Homo sapiens: one gene and its partner. The protein of the gene in region 1 interacts with the protein of each later gene in a pairwise test. Each region holds a gene or a part of one and is shown on either strand. Other genes may lie near its edges. The genes, in order: CLINT1 and BMP2K.

Region 1 (11,183 bases):
GGACCTAAGATACTGAGGGATAATGAAGTTTATATATTAAGTTTAATTAAACATAAGTCAAAGGATTTGAAATTTAATGCTTCCTTGACATTTCATTATGATTCTGTGCCAGTGTGTACCAGAAAAACAATCCAAATGGATTTTGAACCAGTTTTTGAGAATAGAGCTGTATTTTTATAAACTACATTTTCTGATGGTATTTAGTTTTACATGGAACAATACTTTGAGCTTTGCAGCAGTCACTTTTGTTCTTACTTACCAATATTATTATAAACCAATTTTTCTGAGAATGTAAAGGGTAATGCATATAGCACTTAATTTACAGAGCAAATTTTACTTTTTAAATTTGACCTTTATCATTTGTGCCTCACAATATCTCTACTAGAGTAGAATAAGAATTTTGTCTTTGTTGTTTATAAGTAAAACCTAAAACCCAGTCACACTGTGTGGACTTGCCTAAATAACACAGTTAGTGATGGAACCAAGCCTTCAAGTGAGTTCTCGTAACTAAATGCCATCTCTTTTTCTTTACCCTGCGCCAAAAATCCTAATAGTTCAGAATTAGGGATCATTAAAAAGAGGTCCAAACAAAAATACAATCTAATTAGTGTATTTTTAGGATGTTTTCATATCTTTTAAATCCCTGGAATGCCTGTTCAGGAAATACCAACAGAATAATGGCCATAATTTCAATAATGTTTTCCAAACCAAGCCAAAACTTACACAGGCCACAAAAACATTAATGAGGGAAACAGCTCTGTATATTTGAAGTGGGCACCATTTCCCTCCCAATGTTTAGTATTTATAATTATCATATGCATCCTTTTTCAGTATAAAAAAGCTAGATATATACTTGTAAAATAGATTTATTCAAAGTGCTAAAAATAAGTTCTAGCTCTTCAAAGATCACATTCCAGTTTTTCAAACAGTCTTGAAAAAGAGACATTTCAGGGCAGGCTCAGTTCCACCACTAACTGTGTTACTTTAGGCAGATCCACACAGTCTGGTTGGGTCTTAGGTTTTACTTATAAACAATAACGCTATGTAGGCTGGTTAGATATCTGTGTGTGTTCTGTATTGTTACTTTCTCTCCTTTGCCCTTCTATCCTTAGTTTTTCTTTTCTTTGTCTCTCTACTCTTCTTTTATTTCTGTTTCTCCCATGATTTTTATTTTTTATGTTGCCTCTAAGACAGGATCTCCTAGAGTTTCTAAATCTTTAAGGAGTATTTAGGTTTAAAAGAGTGAAAATGCAGTGAACATGATTTATCGTGATAATGATAGGGCACACCAGGAACTTTTTATCTTAAAGTATTTGTGAGAGAAGAGTAGATTTTTTGACAGAGTTGCATATGACCTCAATCCTGATGGCATGTTACCTGAATTTCATACTTATTAGTTCACTATTACATTCAGGAATTCTTGAACATTGATCAGATATGGAGCTTCCATTTCATCGTGTGCTAGTCAGATTTATATTTTCAACTTGTGAATAAATTATTTTGCGCTGAAATAAAATTGGACACCAAAAAAGTAAGAAATTTCAGTTTTACTTGTAGGACTAATGGGAATCTTCAGGTCATTTGTTGTTGAGAAGTTAGTAAGGGCTTTTGAATGCGTATCAGAACTTGTAGGTTCCTTAAAATGTTTATATATAAAAATATATTTAACCCCTTTGCTCTGTGTGGGAAGTCATTCTTTTTGATCTTTGATTTATACAAGTTCCAGATTGGTTTATATTTAAGTACAAGTTGCTATAGTTCAGTCTGAGGTAAATTGCATCAGCAGTTTAAAGGAGAATTTTAAACATTATATTCCAGAATATTTATAAATTAAACCACCTACTCTAAAATTAAGTAATACAGGTAATGGAACATGTTTCAAGTAACATTTCTCTCTTTCTCTCTCTTTCGCTCTCTCTCTCTCTCTCTCTCTCTCTCCTACTTACATCAGAAAAAAACCCAATGACTTGTTACTAGAGAACAGACTAGGGCTGATATTTTCATTCCTAGCATATGAAAAACCCAGGCTTTTACTGTTTAGTTTTTAAAATCTTTTTCACTATTAAAGAAAAAGGAAAGAAAAAATTGTTGAATGTGGCTGAAGGAGAATTATCTTTAAAATATTTTAAATACAGTTGTTTTCTAGAAAGCATTTTCTATAGTTATATAAAAGTTTGATCTCCTGATACTATAGTAAAATAGCACAGTTGTAAAGTGCATTCCCTTATATTTTCATGCATTTACAGATGAGTTTAATTATTCGAATTAAGATGTGTGATTTTTTTAGCATCCATTGAACTTTTATTATTTTATTATGTACACACATTAGTCTTTGAGAGTTGATGCAGAATTGTGTTGTAAAAGTGGAACTATAGTAATTTGCACACAGTCCATGTCAAGAAAATAATCATCACATGCAAGTGTTTGAACTCTCAGGGTCTTATCATGGATTCTGATATCAAATCCTATTTTATTTTTAAGTTAAGCTTAAATCTGTAATAAAAACGAGTTATTTTGACATTTTTTATTTATACACATTTATGTAAATACTTTTTTGTAGCAGTATTTTAGACTTATATAGGATATTCTCTGTGTTTCCACTTCCCCTCCCCAGCGCACATATATCATTATTCAGACAGCTTAGATAACATTCTGTTGATCCCTGTCAAGTAGTCAAAGTATGAAATTTTGGAGTTACTGTATTTGAAATTCTTTAGCTCAAATCACTGAGGGACCCATTTTAAAATAATCCCGTCTTATTATTTTGCTTCATTTTTAATATCTTTTAGCGACAGCGATGAGGAAAAGAAAGCGAGAAGAGGCAGATCTCCCAAAGGTGAATTCAAAGATGAAGAGGAGACTGTGACGACAAAGCATATTCATATCACACAGGCCACAGAGACCACCACAACCAGACACAAGCGCACAGCAAATCCTTCCAAAACCATTGATCTTGGAGCAGCAGCACATTACACAGGGGACAAAGCAAGTCCAGATCAGAATGCTTCAACCCACACACCTCAGTCTTCAGTTAAGGTGGGAATGGCAGTAGTTTACACATTATACATGGTTTTATTTTTATAAACCGCTCTTCGAATTCCTGCATTAGTAGGCTTGGGCATTTCTAGGCAATCATATTAATTATGGATCATCTGGCATGTATTACCAAGAGACATTAATAATAAGAAATCTCTTTGAGGGGAGAAACCTGTCCAATTGCTGAATGATTGGGTACTTTCTATGAAAGTAGAAATGACACTTTTGGTTTGTTTGGGGAAGGTTGTGAATCAGAATGTAGTGCCTCTGTCCCCATCTAGACAATACTGGTTACCAACCACAAGTAGATTCACTAAAGAAAACATTGGAAGTATTTGAAAGTTTTAAGAAATGACAAACGAGGGAGTAAGAAGAGATATATAGGGGCAAGTTATCTCATGTAATGTAGAAACGTTGCCTATAAAGGGAGGCGTGTTTGCCTCACAGTCATTACTGATCAGTATCAAAAGAAGCACTGCCTCTTGTACCATCTTCGTTTGTTTTTATTTACCATAGAGATGAAATCCACCTGCTAGGTACCTGGCCAAACCCTAGTCTTTTCAACAGAAATCTGCCAAATAGGGAGATTTGCCTCAAAAGACTAAATTATTGTTTTTGTCACTTTCCCCGACTACTGTTTCCCCAGTTTGTGTCTTTGCAAGAGAAATAGCTAAAAGCTGGGAAAAACAGTTTTCTAATGTATGCAGCAGATTGTAGGTGACTCTGAAAATAAAACCAGGCCTGCTTAGTTGCAATAACAAATACCATGTCAGCTTTTGCCAAATATCTGTATAATTTTTTTAATAATAGAGACTTTTATCACATATCTTAAAGGATTTTAAATAACAGTTTGTAGTATAGCCTGAATATATGACACTCTGCAATAAATATTTTATATTTGTAGTACAAGCTTTTTCTTTTTCTTTTTCTTTTTTTGGAAGACCGAGTTTCGCTCTTGTTGCCCAGGCTAGAGTGCAATGGCGCGATCTTGGCTCACCGCAACCTCTGCTTCCCAGGTTCAAGTGATTCTCCTGCCTCAGCCTCCCGAGTAGCTGAGATTACAGGCATGCACCACCATGCCCGGCTAATTTTTTTGTATTTTTAGTAGAGACGGGCTTTCTCCATGTTGGTCAGGCTAGTCTCGAACTCCCGACCTCAAGTGATCCACCTGCTTCGGCCTCCCAAAGTGTTGGGATTACAGGCTTGAGCCACCGCGCCCGGCAGTACAAGCTTTTTCTTTTTTGTTTTCATTTACCCTCCTCCCCTCAAAAAAAATGTCTAGAAGGTTGAAGTTCTTAGAAAGTTACCCAACTCATTTGGATCTGTTCTTAAAGGTGTTTTGGAATCACAGTATATAGTATTTTAGTTTTCAAAGTTCAAATCAACATGCCTAGGATCTTAGGGTTTCCCCATTGCCTAATAATTGAGTTCTAATTTAGCATGTATATATCTAACATATAGGACATAGGTATTTAGGTATCAGGGTGCTTAGCTTTGTGGAGAAGATAAAAATAGTATTACAGGTATAGGCCTCAGTTTAGTTGGGGAACTAAATATGAAACATATCAATATATCAAATAACATAGAATTATACTAACTTGTGTGATATACAAACAATAAGTTTTGCTAAGGTTCATAGAAATTTAGAGCTGTTTAGGATCTTGACCTCTAATCCAGTGGATCTCAAGCCTTGGAATTATCTAGGGAGCTTTCTTGTAAGACTTTAACAGGCCAAGGTCTTGGCCTTTTTATACCTGGGCAATTATGACTCAGTGTATTGTATGGGACTGGTACATATGCTAGGGTATTTTTTTTTTTTTTTTTTTTTAATGAACTGATACTTAGCATTAAGATTCAAGTGGGATCTGGCAGTTAATATTTTCCAGAGTGAAATGCAGTCAGAAAAGTGAGGTAGGAAAAAAAGTGTCAATGTTAAGAGACTTTTACACTGCTGGGAATGGAGGTACTTAAAAGTGCTTGCTGCCTCTCCATAAGGATTCAAGGTCAGTACTCTTTTTCCAGAAAACCCTACCCTTATTAAGCTAATTACAGGTATTTATGTCTAAATTGAGAATTAGAGATGGATAGAGCTGATTTTTAGAAAAACAAACTTTTCGAAGCTCCTGAGTTATGTGTGTGTTTTCAGACTTCAGTGCCTAGCAGCAAGTCATCTGGTGACCTTGTTGATCTGTTTGATGGCACCAGCCAGTCAACAGGTAAGCTTCTACATTGGCCTTTTCTTTTGGTTTGAGAGTCATTTTTTAAAATGCCAAATAAAAGATAGATTGAAAAATAAGATTACTTATTTGCATTGGGTTCATTTTTTATATGAAATTAGTGAGTCTTGAGCATTATTTGGAATCATTGTGTTATTTTTGCTTATCTTTTTATATGTACACCCATTTCTCTATCCCTATTTTATACCTTTTTCTGACCCACCCTCAGACTAGCAAAACTTTGTTTGTGGTCAGTACTTATTGGTGGTTAATAATAGTATCCTCAAATCATTATCATACTTAGATTTTAATGACTCCTCATACCTGATGTACTGTGTCTTCCCTAATTAATAATAAATAGTATTTCAAGGCATCATGTACTTTCTGAAATTTTTCATCATAGATTTTGGAATCTATAGTTTCCATTTTTAATTTTTAAGATTAACTTGGAGAAACAAAAAATTGCATTTAAACTGTTGCCTTTACTTTCTTTATAAGCAAAAGGTACTGCTCTGCGCATTTTACTGTCTTTCCCTAAATTTTAATTGCAGCTGTCACCTTGGGCATGCCTAGAGATCATTTAACTTTTTATTCTTTTAATTGAACAAATATTTGTTGAACCAGACACTGATCTGGGTGCTTGTAAAAAACAGAGTTGTTGTCCTCATGCGAAGGTCAAGTGGAGAAAATAATCATTAATCAGAGTCACAAATAGTTATCTAGTGATAAACAATGGCAAGTGCTTCAGTCAGAGGAATGACATTCTCTGAAAGTATGTAACTACCAAACATATTTAAAGAGGGCGGCTGGGCGTGGTGGCTGACCCCTGTAATCCCAGCACTTTGGGAGGCCGAGGGAGGTGGATCACCTGAGATCAGGAGTTCGAGACCAGCCTGGCCAACATGGTGATACCCTGTCTCTACTGAAAATACAAAAATTAGCCGGGTATGGTGGCAGGTACCTGTAATCCCAGCTACTCGGGAGGCTGAGGCAGGAGAATCACTTGAACCCGGGAGGCGGAGGTTGCAGTGAACGGAGATTGCGCCATTGCACTCCAGCCTGGGCAACAACAGTGAAAAACTCCATCTCGGAAAAAAAAAAAAAAAAGAGAGGGCTACAGCAAAAGAACTGTTTACCTTGAATTTCTCATAGATGAGATTGATGATTTCTTCAGTTTGATTTCCAGTATGTGCTAGATTTTGAGTAATTTCTGATCAATTGTTTTCAAGAAAATTGATATTTTTAGGGTTGTATTTGATGATTATGGAGTTTTAATAAACTATTGTGTGACGTGTCAAAATAGTTTAACAAATACATCTTCTGTTTAAAGACAGTCTTTCCAAGCCTAAGTTCATTTCACATTAAAATGTAGACAGTAAGATGGGGGTATGACTAATGTGCAAAGTAAATTTATTATTCCCAGTTGTGTGTAATGATTTTTCAAAGCCGAATTGTGGCTGTGCACAGTGGCTCACACCTGTAATCCCAGCACTTTGGGAGGCCGAGGCAGGCGGATCACCTGAGGTCAGGAGTTCAAGACCAGCATGGCCAACATGGTGAAACCCTGTCTCTACTAAAACTACAAAAATTAGTTTGGCGTGGTGATGGGCACCTTTAATCCCCGCTACTCAGGAGACTAAGGCAGGAGAATCGCTTGAACCCAGGAGGTGGAGTTTGCAATGAGCTGAGATCATGCCACTACACTCCAGCTGGAGTGACAGAGCAAGACTCTTGTCTCAAAAAAAAAAAAACTTTAACTTAACCTTTAAGTGTAAGTCTATGCTGGAAATTACTTTTCACTGATAGTTTAGTATAATTAATGTAATATAAAGCCCCCTATTATTTCCTCCTCCTTACCTACTATGTTAAAATTCTTGGATTAGGCATGAACTTTATTCAAGCAATTCTCTTGCCTAAGCTTCTCGAGTAGCTGGGATTACAGTCACCTGCCACCATGCCTGGCTAATTTTTGTATATTTAGTAGAGACGGAGTTTCACTGTGTTGGCCAGGCTGGTCTCGAACTCCTGACCTCAGGTGATCTGCCTGCCTCAGCCTCCCGAAGTGCTGGGATTACAGGTGTGAGCCACTGCACCCAGCCCAGACATCTGGTTTGACCTACTTTCTTTCTCTATTTTTTTTTTTGAGACAGAGTTTCGCCCTTGTTGCCCAGGCTGGAGTGCAGTACACAGTCTTGACTCACTGCAACCTCTGCCTCCCGGGTTCAAGCGATTCTCCTGCCTCAGTCTCCTGAGTAGCTGGAATTTCAGGCATGCGCCACCACGCCCGGCTGATTTTTGTATTTTTAGTAGAGACAGGGTTTCTCCATGTTGGCCAGCTTGGTCTCAAACTCCTGACCTCAGGTGATCCACCTGTTTTGGCCTCCCAAAGTGCTGGGATTACAGGCGTGAGCCACCATGCCTGGCCAGCCTACTTTCTGAAATTCTTCAATTCCCTTTCCCGTTTTTCTGTAACTGCAAACTGTTCCTAAAATTATTCATTAAACTTGATTGGACTGTAATGCCCAAGGTTACGGACAGCTACATTAGTTGTGTAACAATTTATGTGATATATTTTTATATGTTTAAGATTTGAACTGTAGAATTAACTGGTAGTTAGCATGTAGTCATATAATACAGATATAGTGTCACAGAATATCAACTATTTTGGACTTCCTGGCATGAAATATTTAAAGGGCCCCTTTCATGCATCTGTGAAAAGTTTTAATGGAGCAATCAGAGAAGAATTAACTAGGAAGGTCAGATGGGTGGATGTAACTTTTCCTCTGTGACATCAAGATTGCTTTGAACAGAGAGATTTATTAAATACCAACATGCTTCCTTTACTTGGCAAGGAACCTTTGAGTGGTTTGTCTTCTCCAGTGCAAACAGTAGTTTGACTAATTAAATAGAAGTAGCAATTGATATTAATATAGTAACTGAGAAAGTTTGAATGAAATCTAGGAGGTTTCTTGCCTTAAATTTTATTTTATCTTAATAAAAAGCAACTAATAGAGATTGATATTAGAAGAATTTTTTAAAATTAAAGTTATCTCCTATTTGAAACCGTATGTTTAACCAGTTTGTGCAGCTCCCTCTTCAATCAGTACATAAATTTAGTTACTCCCAATCTCTATTTAAATATTTTAATAATATATTTTAAATTGAATTCAGCAGTGAAAGGAAATTGGGCATTAAATCTTTAGCACTTACACGAGAAGGTATAAGAATCTACCATATTAACATTGCTATTTGGTATGTCATTTGGGTGTCATTTACCAGATGTGCCCATATTTATAATAGTACCATCATGCAAGTAATGTGGGCACAAACTGTAAAGCTAAGCAGATATGGCATCTGTACCACTCACCAGCTAAATATATCCTCTGAGAAAATGTTCAGATTTTTGTGTGTGTGTGATTACATGTTCTTAGCATTCTCAAAAGTATATATGGTAAAATCATTGTAGAATATCTTACCAAGTTTAAAAATATATATGTAAAACCTAACTATCAGGATTTACTTGAGACTATCTCATATCTTAATAAAATGTCCCCTTGTGGTGATATTCTTTTAAAACCTGTACTCACATGGTGTTTCAGTTGCTTTTACATAAAGTACATTTCTAAGTAAACATTTTAAGAAATGAAAAATAATTTAAAGTACAGTCATGGACTGCATAGTATGTGACCATGGTCCCATATACAATACTATATTTCTACCGTACCTTTCTTATGTTTAGATATACAAACACTTTCTATTGTGTTACAGTTGCCTACAGTATCCAGTATAGTGACATGATGTACAGATTTGAAGTCAAGGAGTAATAGGCTATACCTTATAGCCTAGGTATGTAGTAGGCTAACTAGGTTTGTGTAAGTACCCTCTATGATGTTTGCACAATGACAAAATTGCCTAATGCCCCAATGCATTCTGTCATTGAGAAATGTGTGACTATATTTAGAAAATAAGCCAATTAGAAATAGAATGCCAAAAACTGTCCCATTTCTTTTTTTAGTTTATCTCACCTCTTTAAAAAGAAGTCCAACTTGTCTCTTTTGTCCCTTTGTAATTAAGAAATTTAGGTCTTGATTAACATACTGTTAAACTAGATATTTCTAGTACAATAAATAAGGTTGAGAAAATTCAGCATAATCAATACAGATAGAACTTAAATGACTTGCAATATATTTTGAATGTTTTTAAGTTAAAAAGAAACATTTAAAAGGATTAAGGTATATCAAATCCGAAATGTGTATTACATTTACATTTGAACCTGCTGCTTTGTACCCAGTAATCGCTAGTTAGTTGAAGACATTTACATGAACATGTAAATACTCACCTTGTTCCATTCTTAGTACACTAACTTATCATTTGGGTAGGGGTTGTCTCCAGTTTTAAACTAAGTTTACTGAAAATAAAATTTTTTCAGTATATTCTCTTTTTCACTGATTATTAAAAGTAATGCACATTCAATTTGGTGGAAAACAAGTGATTTACCATAATTTAGACACATAAAGTATTAATCTGGTGAATATCTTTTTAAAATACATTTTCTACATATTCCATTAATGTAGTTATTTAAGCATTTATTATGTGGCAGATCTTTTTCAGGCTTTTAGATATGACTTTTCATTTGTTTGGGTTTTTCTGGGTTTTAGTCATTTATTTATATATTTTGATAAACTGCTTTTCACCTAAGATCTCATGACCATTTTCTTATGATAGTTGGTATTCTTTTATAGTACTTTTCATTGCTTTATAATCTTACATTGGGTGGCTATATTATAATTTAGCCAGTTAATCCCTTGTTTTCTAGACATTAGTTTTTTTATTTTTCCAAAATTTTGTAGTACAATAGCACCTTTTAAAGCTTTTTCAGTTTGGTAAAGAGAAAATAATATTTCATTTTATTTTGCATTGATGATTGAGTTTGAACACTTCATATTTTTATAGGCCAGTTGTTACTATCTATTCATGTTCTTTATTTATTAGGAGTATTCATCCTTATTGATATTCTAAAACTTGTGTATTATAGATAATAATTCTTTGTCATGTATTTACATTTTTTTTGCACTTTGCCATTGCTTTAATGTTGTGTAAATTCTTCATGCAAAAGTTTGTCTTAATGTAATCTAGATTAAATTTTTTTGTCAAAGAAAATTTCCATTTGTCGTTTAAGTACTGTCTAGTTTACCTGTATTTTCTTGTTCACAATATTGCTTTGGGAAATACATGTTCCCAGCTGGTGACTAAATAACCTCCCTGCTGCCCTGGAAAGGCAGATGGAAGTGGTTCATTTATAATGACAGTTCTCATGTGGGAATCTTGAAGGATAGCACTTGTTGTGAAAATTAGCAGTCTTCCACATGCAGCAATTTTTGGTAGACTCTTTTATTTATATTCCTTTAGAATATAAATTTAGATAGAAGTTTTCTGGGAAAATGCTTAAGTATAGAAAATGAATGTGGAATTTGGTATGAATATCATACATACAGATATGGATAGTCTTAGGAGAGAAACATTTTCTAAATAAAGAGATTTTTAATTTTTGAGACAGTTTTCAAAGTTGAAGATCACATTTCTTAAAGTACCAGTAAAAGCATAATATGTGGCACTTTAAAAGATTAGAGAGAAAAAACATTTTCAGAGAAAGACAACTTCTATTTGTAAAATAGTTACATACATCTTTCCATTTTTTGCTCCCAATATTCTTAAGCTACTCATGTTGAAATCAAAATCCCTGTAATATAGATGGAGAGGAATACTATTTGCTATAGATAAGTTATGAACATCATATAATTTCTGTTTTGGTGATAGAAGATAGGTAATTATCTGAAATACTAAATACAGGGTATGTCAGAAATAAAATTTCTTACCAGTTTGAAGTTGTGATCTACAGCTTTTATCCTCAACATGTATTTTCTTTGTAGC
Region 2 (11,183 bases), on another chromosome or scaffold:
CCGGGGACTTGCCCTTGCACGCTCCCTGCGCCCTCCAGCTCGCCGGCGGGACCATGAAGAAGTTCTCTCGGATGCCCAAGTCGGAGGGCGGCAGCGGCGGCGGAGCGGCGGGTGGCGGGGCTGGCGGGGCCGGGGCCGGGGCCGGCTGCGGCTCCGGCGGCTCGTCCGTGGGGGTCCGGGTGTTCGCGGTCGGCCGCCACCAGGTCACCCTGGAAGAGTCGCTGGCCGAAGGTACGGGCGCCCGGGGAGGCTCGGACAGGCAGGTGAGGGAGGGTTGGGGTGTGGCGGCGGCTTCTCCGGGTCCTCGCCCTCCGGACTGACTCTTATACCCCATTCTTCCTCTGCTGCCGGGCCAGCGGGGGCTCCTAAAGAGTGGCTCGGGCTTTCTCTCTTAAGCTGGCTTTTCTTGCCGCTGGCTGCCCCGGCCGGTGCACAGTTCTCTCATGCCTAGTTTAAATCATTTTCTGTGCTTTTTGACGCGAGAAAATAGGTAGTAGACGGGCTAGGAAGTGGGTTGGTGTTACGATTGGGCCAGTGACTCATTAGAGGGTCAGATCGAACAGGGTTGAAGCTCCGTTCTGCCAGCTGTGGCTCAGACGGGTGTCATGCGTTGGCCTTTTCATCTAAGCCTCCACCCGCGCTGCAGGGCATAGGACCCTGCAGCCCCTGGTGTCAAGCTGGGCTTTGCTGCAGCTCAGTCATCTGTTGAAAAACAATGTATTTGTGTGCATGTGTGCGTGTTGGAGGTGATCCTTTGCTCTAAATTCAGTTAGTAGGTTGCACTGAGGAGCAGGTAAACTTGGAGCCCATTTATCTTTGTTATTTAGAATCTTCTCTGTTGGACAAGGTGCTATTCATGCCCTCCCAGTATGTCTCTTTGATAGTAGTTTAAAAGGTGATATAAAAGCAGGTTAACTTTCACTTAACGAGGTTTTGTGGTCGGTCCTTCATGATCTGGAACAGGTTATGACGGCAGGTAGAAGTCTACTTACAAAAAAAGTTTACTCCATTTTAAAAGAAGAACTTAGAATTTAGTTTTGTATTTCTGGCATAATTGCCTTGTAGAAAATACTTGCCCTGTGTGCTGCATGCTTCATTGGCCTTTGAGTTTTTAGTTGCAAAATGATACTACAAAATAAACACTTTAAAAGAAATACTTTTTGTTGATAAATGGCCCTTTTAAGTTCTATGGTTAAGATAAAAAAAATCGAAGAGTGGATTCAGTTCTCCGAGCGTTAGACGTTGATGTGGTTTGAAAACAGTAGACTGAGATTCCGCTTGTATTTTTTGAAATGCTATACACAACAGTAAATTAGCACAAGGGAAAAAACCTGAAGATTTTTGTATAAAATATTTGAAAGAGAAAGAAATCGTGAATTATTCAAGTGTACATATCATTGTTTCGTGAACCATTGCTCAGAATAATGATCTTAGCCGAAACTTGGAGAGGTGGGAGAAGGAGGATCCTTAGTTTTTCAGAAGAATGAATATGTGGTGAGTGGTCTTTATAAAAGATTTACTATACTATAAAGTTTTCTAGCTCTTTATTACACATGAATTTCAATTATTGGTTTAGATTGTGTTGTAGGTTTTAAAAGCACATGGCTCTTCACTCAAATGCCATATTCTGTCTTTGAATTGTTTTAGTAACTAATTGAAATGTAGCTTGAGTAGTGTTACACTCACTCATTCCACTAAATCCCAGATGGGTCTTTTATTTAATAGAAAAAAAATACTGACATTTCACAAATTAGATTTTGAATTTGTAACTTGTATTACTCACTACCCTAAGCATATCTTATCACTACCCTAAGCAAGCCATTTTCAATAAAAAAATAATTTTGGAAAGTAATAAAGATGAATTTCAAAAGGAGAGTTCGTTCAACCACAACGAAGAATAAAAGTTTATTTCAAGCGCTAATGTCACTGTTAGAGTGTTCCACTGACTTTTGCCATAAATGTATCATTTCTCTTGAAAAGTCAATAATCAAATGCTAGGAGGAAGCAAGGACTGAAGAAATCCTTTTAGAAGATGAAACTTCTCCATCCTACACCCCAGCTTTAATTTCCTAGAAGGGAGGCCAAGGCCTAGGTTTTCTTTCCTTGTGTATTTTTTCTGTCTCCATCACCCACACAACTGGAATTGTCTATGTATAATCAGTTTAATTTTGATCCTGGCCGGTCTTATTTCAGATGCTTAATATCCCCTCTCCCTTCCTAATAAATAGTGCCACAATTTAGACAAGATGTTTAAGCACAAGTCTAGTTCGCATTTAAGCGTGATTAATCAATAATTGATGGGTCTGCCTGATCATAAGATTGGGTCATGTACTTGTGAAAATGCATTCAAGTTTAGAGTACTTGATTTGGGGAGAGGGATACCACTGAGTAGGCAAAGCGGTAGAAGCTAAGATAGACCAAAGCACAGACTTGGTAGATTTTGCATTTTTTGTTTTGGCCCAAAGTTGTTTAAACAGAGCCAGGAAGACTCAGTAGATACTGTGCCCTGAAGTGTTTTTGCCATGCTCCTGCAAACATTGGTAGTTTACTCATAATGACCTCTGCAGTGTCTTTTTAATAAATCCGTCCGTCTCTCTGTTGTTATTTTTATATAATTAGTTATGTTGCAAAAAGTCACCGTGAAAACTGGATTAGCAAACACTGAACCACTGCTCCTACTATGGTGTTAGATTCCTGAAAGCTGCTGTTCACAACATTTTTGTCAACTGATCAAGATACAACCTTGTTTTATGTCTGTTGCAGTTTAAATACACCTTATTTAATATATTTGGTTGATTTATTAACATTGAAATCATGGCCAACAGCTCTGTAAATCATGCCTCAATGAAGATTATCTCACACTTGTATTTTCTCTGTAGTCTTTGCTCCTTGAACACTAGACAGCACTTTAGCACTACGCTTAGGGACTGTTTTCAACAGTGAAATCACCAATAGCAAGCACAAAAATGAGAAAAACATGGCACTAAATAGACCATGAAAAGGACACTTGTTTACACTATGTAAGCTGAAACTAGAATGTGCACGTCAGTAGACTCACATTTTTCACCATTGTGCACATGTCTGCAATGACAGTGGAAGTGCTATGAGTAATGATTTTGGGGATACAAATAAATGTTAGTGAGTAGATGAATTTGTAAATATAGTATCCTCAACTAATGAGGAGCAACCTTTGTTATAGGTAGATATGTATATGCACATATTATGTCTATAATTTGAAAAGCAGATTCTCAGGGGTAGGTTGTATGTTATAACTAAACTGTTAAAGTTTTCTCTCTGAAACATTATATACTTTGTATCATAATGTCTTTGTAGTCAAGCACATAAGTGTTTGAAAATAGAACTTGCACCTTTTTAGTTCCTCCTCAAAGTTTAAAGGACTGATAACATAGTGAGGCAGTTCATGTTTTTTTTCTCAAAAACATGTTTAGGAGTCTGTACTAAGCAGATCCCAGCTTTGGTCTGTAGAAATGAGGGAGAGCGGTATGTTGGTTTTAGCTTCAAACAGTGACAAATTGTCAGGCTCATATAATTAATTCAATGTAACCTTCCAAGTTTTTACTAAAACCTGGGGTTGGCTTGTTGACCACATGCATCACCATAACAAGCCTTTGGTGCTAGTCTGAGGAATTTAATACTGATTGATAATAAGTTGGTTTTTGAGTAGGGGACATTGTTTTCCCTAAATGTCCTTGGTACAAAATGGACCTAAAATGGGGTGTTGAGACTGGGAGAGCAGAGATAACTTGTTGAGATAATGTAATCACGAGGTTATGGGGGCTGGGTAGGAATGATAGTGTGAATATGGTGATGTGGGTAAGATTTACTGAGATGGGTGTTGGGGGTTATTGGATTGTTAGTAATTGGAGGCCAGGAATTTACTACAGGGTTCTTTAAAAATAGCTCAGTATTTCTCTTAGAGTTAAATGCTTAGATAAGCTAAGTATTAGCCAGTTCTCGTTGTTAATTTTTCAGGAAGGTTGTACTATACATCTGATTTTGCACTATAAATTAGTAGGGAAATGATAGATTTAAGCATTATATCTCATTTGCAGAAAGCATCTGTGGCTGCCCAGTAACTTGTAAGTTCACATTCCGAAGAGAAGATAGAGAGGATAGAAAAAAGGGAAGGATCGAATAAAAATATCAACAACTGTTACTACTACACAACTTCATTAAATGCCTTTGGTGTGCTAAGCACTGCTAGGTGCTACTTAACATAGTAGAGGACAATAGTGGAGGTATTCTTCTGGCCTATGAAACTTACAGATTAGTGTGGAAGGTAAAAGCTAAACAAGCCAACAAAAATCACCAAGTTACTATAGTTAAAATTTTTTATATGTGTCGTGAAGACAATGCTCAGGGTTTTATGAGAGAATTCAGTTTAGACTGGGGGGTCAAGGAAGGCCTTTTTGATCTTTTAGCAGAAACCTGAAGGATGAAGAAAGTTAGGTAAAAACAGAGGTGTGAGGTTGGGGTGATTTGAAGTATGTCATGAAGACTGAAGTCTCTGTGTGAGGGAAGGAAGTTTCAGAAACTGAAATATGCTCAGAGCTGTGGACTACAATGAATGAATCACATGTAAGAGAGATCCAAGATGATGTTGGCAAGGTGACCAGGGTCCGGGGCTTAGTATACCATGCTGAGGAGTTTAGGTTTTATCTGAAATGCAACAGGAAGCTATTGAAGGGTTTGAATTGGGGCAGTGACATGCTCTGATTTGTATTTTTACAAGATCATGCTGATTGCTGTATAGAGAGGTATACAAATTATAAGGTTAAAATGATGACAGTGGGGATGAAGATGATAATGCTTAAATGGGAAGACCTTGTGGTGGTCATAGGAAGTGTTAGGAATTACTTGCTTATGTATCTCTCAGGTGAAAGTACCGTTTGGGAACATAAGGAAGGAACAGATTTTTTTTTTTTTTTTTGAGGTGTTTGGAGGACAGCCAGTAGTTCAGACATGTTTAGAGATGTGTTTGGATGAGATATCTGAGAGGAAATATCAAATGGGAAGCTGGGTATGTCGTCTGGAACTCAGCAAAGGTGTTTGGGCTTAGAGATGGTACTTCTGATTGATTAGTGAGCCCTGGCTGTTATTTAAAGCCCTGGGAGAGGATGGATGTAGGGAGAGTGTAGAATGAGAAGGTGCTCATTGAAGGACTCCTATAGTGCATTGGTCTCAGACATTAGTGTTCATTGTAAACATTCAGAGGATTTGGTAAAACAGAAGTGCTGAGCCTGGTCCCCAACTTTTGATTATGTCTGAGTGAGGCCCACTCTTTCAGTGATACAGATGCTGCCGGTTCAGGAACCACGTCTTGAGTACCGAGTACCACTGATTTCGAGCGGGCGAAGAAGACTAAGAAGAAGGTGCTAGAGAGGTATGAGGAATACCAGGACACTCTGATACCTGGAAACTTGAGAGTATTTCAAGAAGGGGAGGGAGTGAGCAGTTGTGTTGCTGCAAAGTCATCTTACTTGATCACATTTTTTCGCCTGGCATTCACAGTTATTCATGCTCACTTCTTATCTTTAAAAGCTTACCTGTAATTATTTGCTAGGTGAATACTCTTTGCGCCTGGTGCAATGTGCTCCACTCCCTGTTGGTCCGTGACTGAATCTTGTACTTGCCTAGCACTCTGCCTTTGTCTCTGTAATCCCTGTTTCCTAAGTACTGGTTATGATCACTTCCTCCTTTCTGTGGACACTTGTAACTATTTGCTTTTTTCCCTCTTGTCACATTTAACCTGTCTTGAGATGGAATTATGTAAGCACCTAGAAACACTAAGGTTGTTAACTACTGTTCCTCTGTCATCTCCACTACCAGATAGTAAAATTCTTAAGGCTAGACAGACTCTGTTTTAATTGATGTTGTATCACACAAGTTGGCCATACCATGAACATTCAGCTACTTCTCAAAGGAAATGGTGCTTGATTTTTTTATTTTTAATCAGATGATGATCTTCAGTAGAATTTAAGGCCTAATTTGCAAATTGAAGAGCACCAATGGAGGGCTCTTTACTGGACCATCAAAGGTTTTGTACTTAGGCCAGAGGACTCTGTGTTTTCTAGTTTGGTGAAGACAAACAACCGTTAAGGCAGTGTCATTTCACTTAACAACTTGAAACAGGAAAGAAAAAAAATAACCCAGATGCCCCCTTGTAGTTATCTTGCTTTATTGACATTGTATTTTTATTTATTCTACAAAGGTGGCTGAGTTTTTAAAAAAGTATGTTACATGCAATTGTGAAATTGTTTTACATTTTGTGGTTAATTTTGACAGCTTTTTTTGGATGCTGAGCTTTTTGGGGGTAGAACCAAGGTCTATTCACCTGTGCATTCAGTTGTCCAGTAGTACTTACTCAGCACCCTTTTTTGTTGTTGTTTAATTAAGCTCTTAGAAAACATTGTTTCCTCTTCTGAAACAAGGAGTTAATATCTATTATGAAGATTAGAGAAGATAATGTGTGACAGTACCTGACAGTGCATTGCCAAATCTCTTCATAACTATGAGTGAACTTTTAAGTTCCGATTTGGTTATACGCTTTCAGTGAAATCTGATTTGGAAATTATAGTGACTTTATTATATATTTGGTATCACATTTATCCTGAATAAGTATCACATTTGTGTTTGAAAAATATCTGAATAGTTTGTTAGATAATTATGTGTCCCTCAGCCATATTGAATTTTCAAGTTTCAATCAGCTATATAAAATTTTGACCTATATAGTAGCATATGATTTCACTATAAAATGGAAATTATTTGCAACAAAGGACACTATATACAATATTAACAAATGGTTCTTTTTTGGGTTGTTTATGTTATTATTGTAGTGATAGCTCCTAGGATGTAATTTTGATTGTCCGTTAATGTATTTCCTCTAGAGGTAGTAGTTTTATTCAAGGACAAGCTACTGACACTAAAACAATTATTCTAAATTTTCAGTATTCCAAAAAAACAGTGGAAATTTATAATGCATTTATCTCCAGTAAAGGTGCTAAATTGTACAGGATGGGCATGGTGGCTCACGCCTGTAATCCCAGCACTTTGGGAGGCTGAGACAGGTAGATCACTTGAGGCCAGGAGTTCGAGACCAGCCTGGCCAACAGGGTGAAACCCCATCTCTACTAAAAACACAAATATTAGCCGGGCATAGTGGCACGTGCCTATAATAACAGCTACTCATGAGGCTGAGGCAGGAGAATCCCTTGAGCCCAGGAGGCAGAGGTTGCAGTAAGGTGAGATAGAGCCATTGCACTCCAGCCTGGGTGACACAGCAAGACGCTGTCTCAAAATAAATAAATAAATAAATAAATAATAAATAAAAATAAAAGTGCTAAATTGTACAAACATGCCAAATATCTTTGCTTTTAGGCTGTAGTCAACTATTGTGGTTAATACTGACATTCTCATGCTGGGCAGATTGAAAAGGCTATGTCTTCGATATTTTAAAAATAATGAAAATGAATTAATATTTGTTAGTATGTTTCATCATGGGGTGCACAGTAGGGAAACTTGGAAAAGGTCCTTGATGTTGTCAATGTTAGAGAATGTACTAGAAAGTGAGACGGATGTCCTTATGTTGATCCTGGGTCTTATATAGTGTTCTTTCTGATCTTGTATATTATCTTGGTTTTCTTTCACCATTTCCCTCCTATTTTTTTGTCAGAACTTGAAGTAGTTTCATATACATCCAATAGAGCTCATTTGGTAGTTATCAAAATGATTAAAGCCTTGACTTGGGATTCCAAAGTTAAGAGTCTTGAACTACCATTTCAAAGCTGCCACACTTTTCTAGTGGTCGGGTATAATATTTCATCTCCAAAAGATTGGGACTGTTTATTCCTTTGTTTTATCTTGCATGCATCTGGTGAACCATTCATCTACCCACAGCCTGCTATTTTTAGGGGACTAAGTTGGGAAGTTGAGTGGTTAATGACTGAGCTGTTTTAAATAGCTGGGCACTTAGTTAATTTGGAGATTCTTTGTCTATGTGTATCAGCTTTACAAATGAGGTCAGTCAGCACATGTCTGCTAACTGTTTCAAAAGTCTCTCTCTGCAGGAAAGTGGTTGTAAGGCCTTTTCTACAGAGAGACTTTGTTTTTGGTTTATCCTAGTCTTGTAGAATTGCAGTAACATTAGAGGCATTTTGCAGTAAGTATTATTTTAAAATATGGAATGATTGTTGTTACTAGTTTGCCCATTTTAACATTTTTAATTATCTTTGAAATAGTGCCTTCTTGGACGCATCTATCGGGGAAAAATACCAGCTGGTAATCCCTGTTCTGCCTCTAACTTGCATTGTGACGTTTTGACTTCAGTTTCCTCAAGAAAAAAATGAAGTGGAAAAAATGAATTTGTAACATCTTTTTCCATTTTAGTATTCTTGGATTCTGTCTATGTAACTGATTTTAACTGCTCTTTTAGATAAATGAGGAGCATGGGACAGGGAGGAATAGCAATGAACAATTTCAGGATTGAGACCATAATGAAAGGATTGTGTTTGATCGTTATACAATTTGAGTTCTTTGACAGACTTCACAATGGAATGGCAATTTATTTTTTAATCCTAAAGTATGAAATTATTTTTATTTTATTTTATTTTATTTTTTCAAGACGGAGTCTTGCTCTGTTGCCCAGGCTGGAGTGCAGTGCTGCAGTTGTGGTTCACTGCAACCTCTGCCTCCTGGGTTCAAGTGATTCTCCTGCCTCAGCCTCCCAAGTAGCTGGGATTACAGGTTCTTGCCACCACACCTGGCTAATTTTTGTATTTTTAGTAGAGACAGGGCTTCACCGTGTTGGCCAGGCTGGTTTCTTAACTTCTGACCTCAGGTGATCTGCCCACCTTGGCTTCCCAAAGTGCTGGGATTACAGTCATGAGCCACTGCGCCCGGCCTAAAATTATTTTTTAATCATTGGAAAAAGGTCTTTTCTAAGAAGTTGCCTTACATGCTAGTCCTTGAGATCCGGGTAGAAGCTCAAATTAAATTGTGTGACATTTCAGAATACTATTTAGTTTCAGTGGGCATGCCACCTTAATTGCTTATTTTACTATCTTGATTGTGTTCTCTAAGAGACTCATGCACAATATATGTATTTTAGAGAGTATTAGTAACAAAACAAAACCTTTTTATTCAAAAAGAATATATGAGGAGGAGGTATGACAGTACTTTCTCTGATGAAGTTTACAGATACAAAGTTTACCCTTGATATGTGTGGGAAATTGGGTACCTTTTGTTTCCAATGCTGTCAGCCCTAATTTGGGTCCTTAATACATCTCGTTTAGAGAATTATATTAGCATTTGGACTGTTCTTTCAGACTCTTTCCTTGCCAAACCAATTCTTGTATTCCTTCCAGTTTATTCTTCCTAAAATGGACTTATGCTCATGTCACTCTCTTACTTGCCTAACCAAGTAAAGTACAAACTCGTTACTCTAGGATTCAGGACCCCCTGACCTGAACCTCCAGTTCAGTATGACCTCCAACCTACCTCTCCAGCCTTAATCTCTTACTCTTACTCCCTACTTATATTACACTGATGTGCTTGGTATTTTCTGCACTTCTCTCAAGCTTTCTGCTATCGTCTGAATGTTTGTGACTCCTCCCGCAATTCATATGTTGAAATCCCAACGCCCAAGGTGATGCTATTTAGTGATGGGGCCCTTGGGAAATGATTGGGTCATGAGAGCCCTCATGAATGGAATTAATGCCCTTATAAAAGAGGCCCCAGAGAGATCCCTCATCCCTTGCACTACATAAGGTTAGAGTGAGAAGATGGCCATCTGTGAGGAAACAAGCCCTCTCCAGGCACTGAATTTCCCAGCACCTTGCTCTTGGACTTCCCAGTCTCCATAACAGTAAGAAATTCTGTTGCTTATAAGCCACCCAATGTGTGTGTGTGTGTGTGTGTGTGTGTGTGTGTGTGTGTGTGTGTGTTTTGAGACACGGTCTCTATTGGCTAGGCTGGAGTGCAGTGGTGTGATCATAGCTCACTGCAGCCTTGAGCTACTGGCCTCAAGCAGTCCCCTTGCCTTAGCCTCCCGACAGTTGGGACAATAGGCATGTGCCACCTTGCCACACTTCTCCATTTCTGTTTTTTAGCTTATGTTGTTATGTTTGCCCAGAATGCAAATACTGGCCTCCACCACTCTGTTAAAAATGGGGTCTTGTAGGATATATTTAAAATAGTTACTTTTTTGTAATCTTTATTTTTTCCTGAAACCCTATCTACAACCAAATAAGTGTAATTATGCCTTCCTTTGCTCTGCGTAGCAACTGTTACTCATATAGCACTTATCTTAAATAGCTTTGTTCTATTCTAATAAAATGCGTAATTTTCTCTACTTTAAAATTTAATTCTTTTAAGGCTTATCTTGTATTCATTCTTTTTTTCCCTCTCATTATTTTTAAAATATTTGGTAGAGATGGGATCTTGTTACGTTATCCAGGCTGGTTTTGAACTCCTGGCCTCAAGTGGTCCTCCTGCTTTGGCCTCCCAAAGTGCTGGGATTACAGGTGTGAGGCACCATGCTTGGCCTTGTATTCGTCTTTTATCTCTTGCAGTGCTGTACTCATGATAGTATTGAGTACCTCTGTAAGAGGTTGAGTTTTGGTATTCAAAAGTGATCAGAGGGCTTGCTACAAATTACTATGAAACAATTGGATAGCAGCCATATTTGACATATCAAGCTGTTCAGTTGATATTTAGGAGAAGGCTGACTCTGTTTTTGAAGTTCTGTCCATTTTAAAATAAGGAGATAGAGATATTTGTTAATAATGTAGTTCTAGCATTAAATAGATGGATGAAAAAATACTACCAGATTTATTTTTGGACTCCTAGCCTGTTTTATTTCTGTTATGGTTATATGTATAGTACATCTTTGTTTTGTGGGTACTGCATTGCTTGTATTTGATGTGACTCTCAAAATGTTCTAGCCTGAATTCCCTTGAGCCACTACCGTTAGACAGAGTGGGAGCTGGGTAGTCTAAAGTATGTGCTTTGGATAACTGATCTTAAGAAAACAGTTTTGGGGGTGGTCAGCTGTGTATGGCTTTATCTTGAGTGGCGGATAGTACCACTCAATGGGATGAATGGTGTCTAAGAGGATGAGGGTATTAGGAAGAAGAAGGGGATCTTATCTCCTTAAGGCTCCTGGG

Evidence for each region.
Region 2: the proteins of CLINT1 (region 1) and BMP2K interact in binary tests that used the Homo sapiens proteins (3 or more experiments, as listed by UniProt).

Annotation. Positions count from the first base shown.
Region 1 is NC_000005.10:157,797,719-157,808,901, reverse strand, and holds part of CLINT1 (clathrin interactor 1), read left to right. Parts: intron 1-2,789; coding exon 2,790-3,036; intron 3,037-5,182; coding exon 5,183-5,252; intron 5,253-11,183. UniProt on the Homo sapiens protein: Binds to membranes enriched in phosphatidylinositol 4,5-bisphosphate (PtdIns(4,5)P2). May have a role in transport via clathrin-coated vesicles from the trans-Golgi network to endosomes. Stimulates clathrin assembly.
Region 2 is NC_000004.12:78,776,491-78,787,673, forward strand, and holds part of BMP2K (BMP-2-inducible protein kinase), read left to right. Parts: 5' UTR 1-53; coding exon 54-231; intron 232-594; exon of another isoform or gene 595-5,404; intron 5,405-11,183. UniProt on the Homo sapiens protein: May be involved in osteoblast differentiation.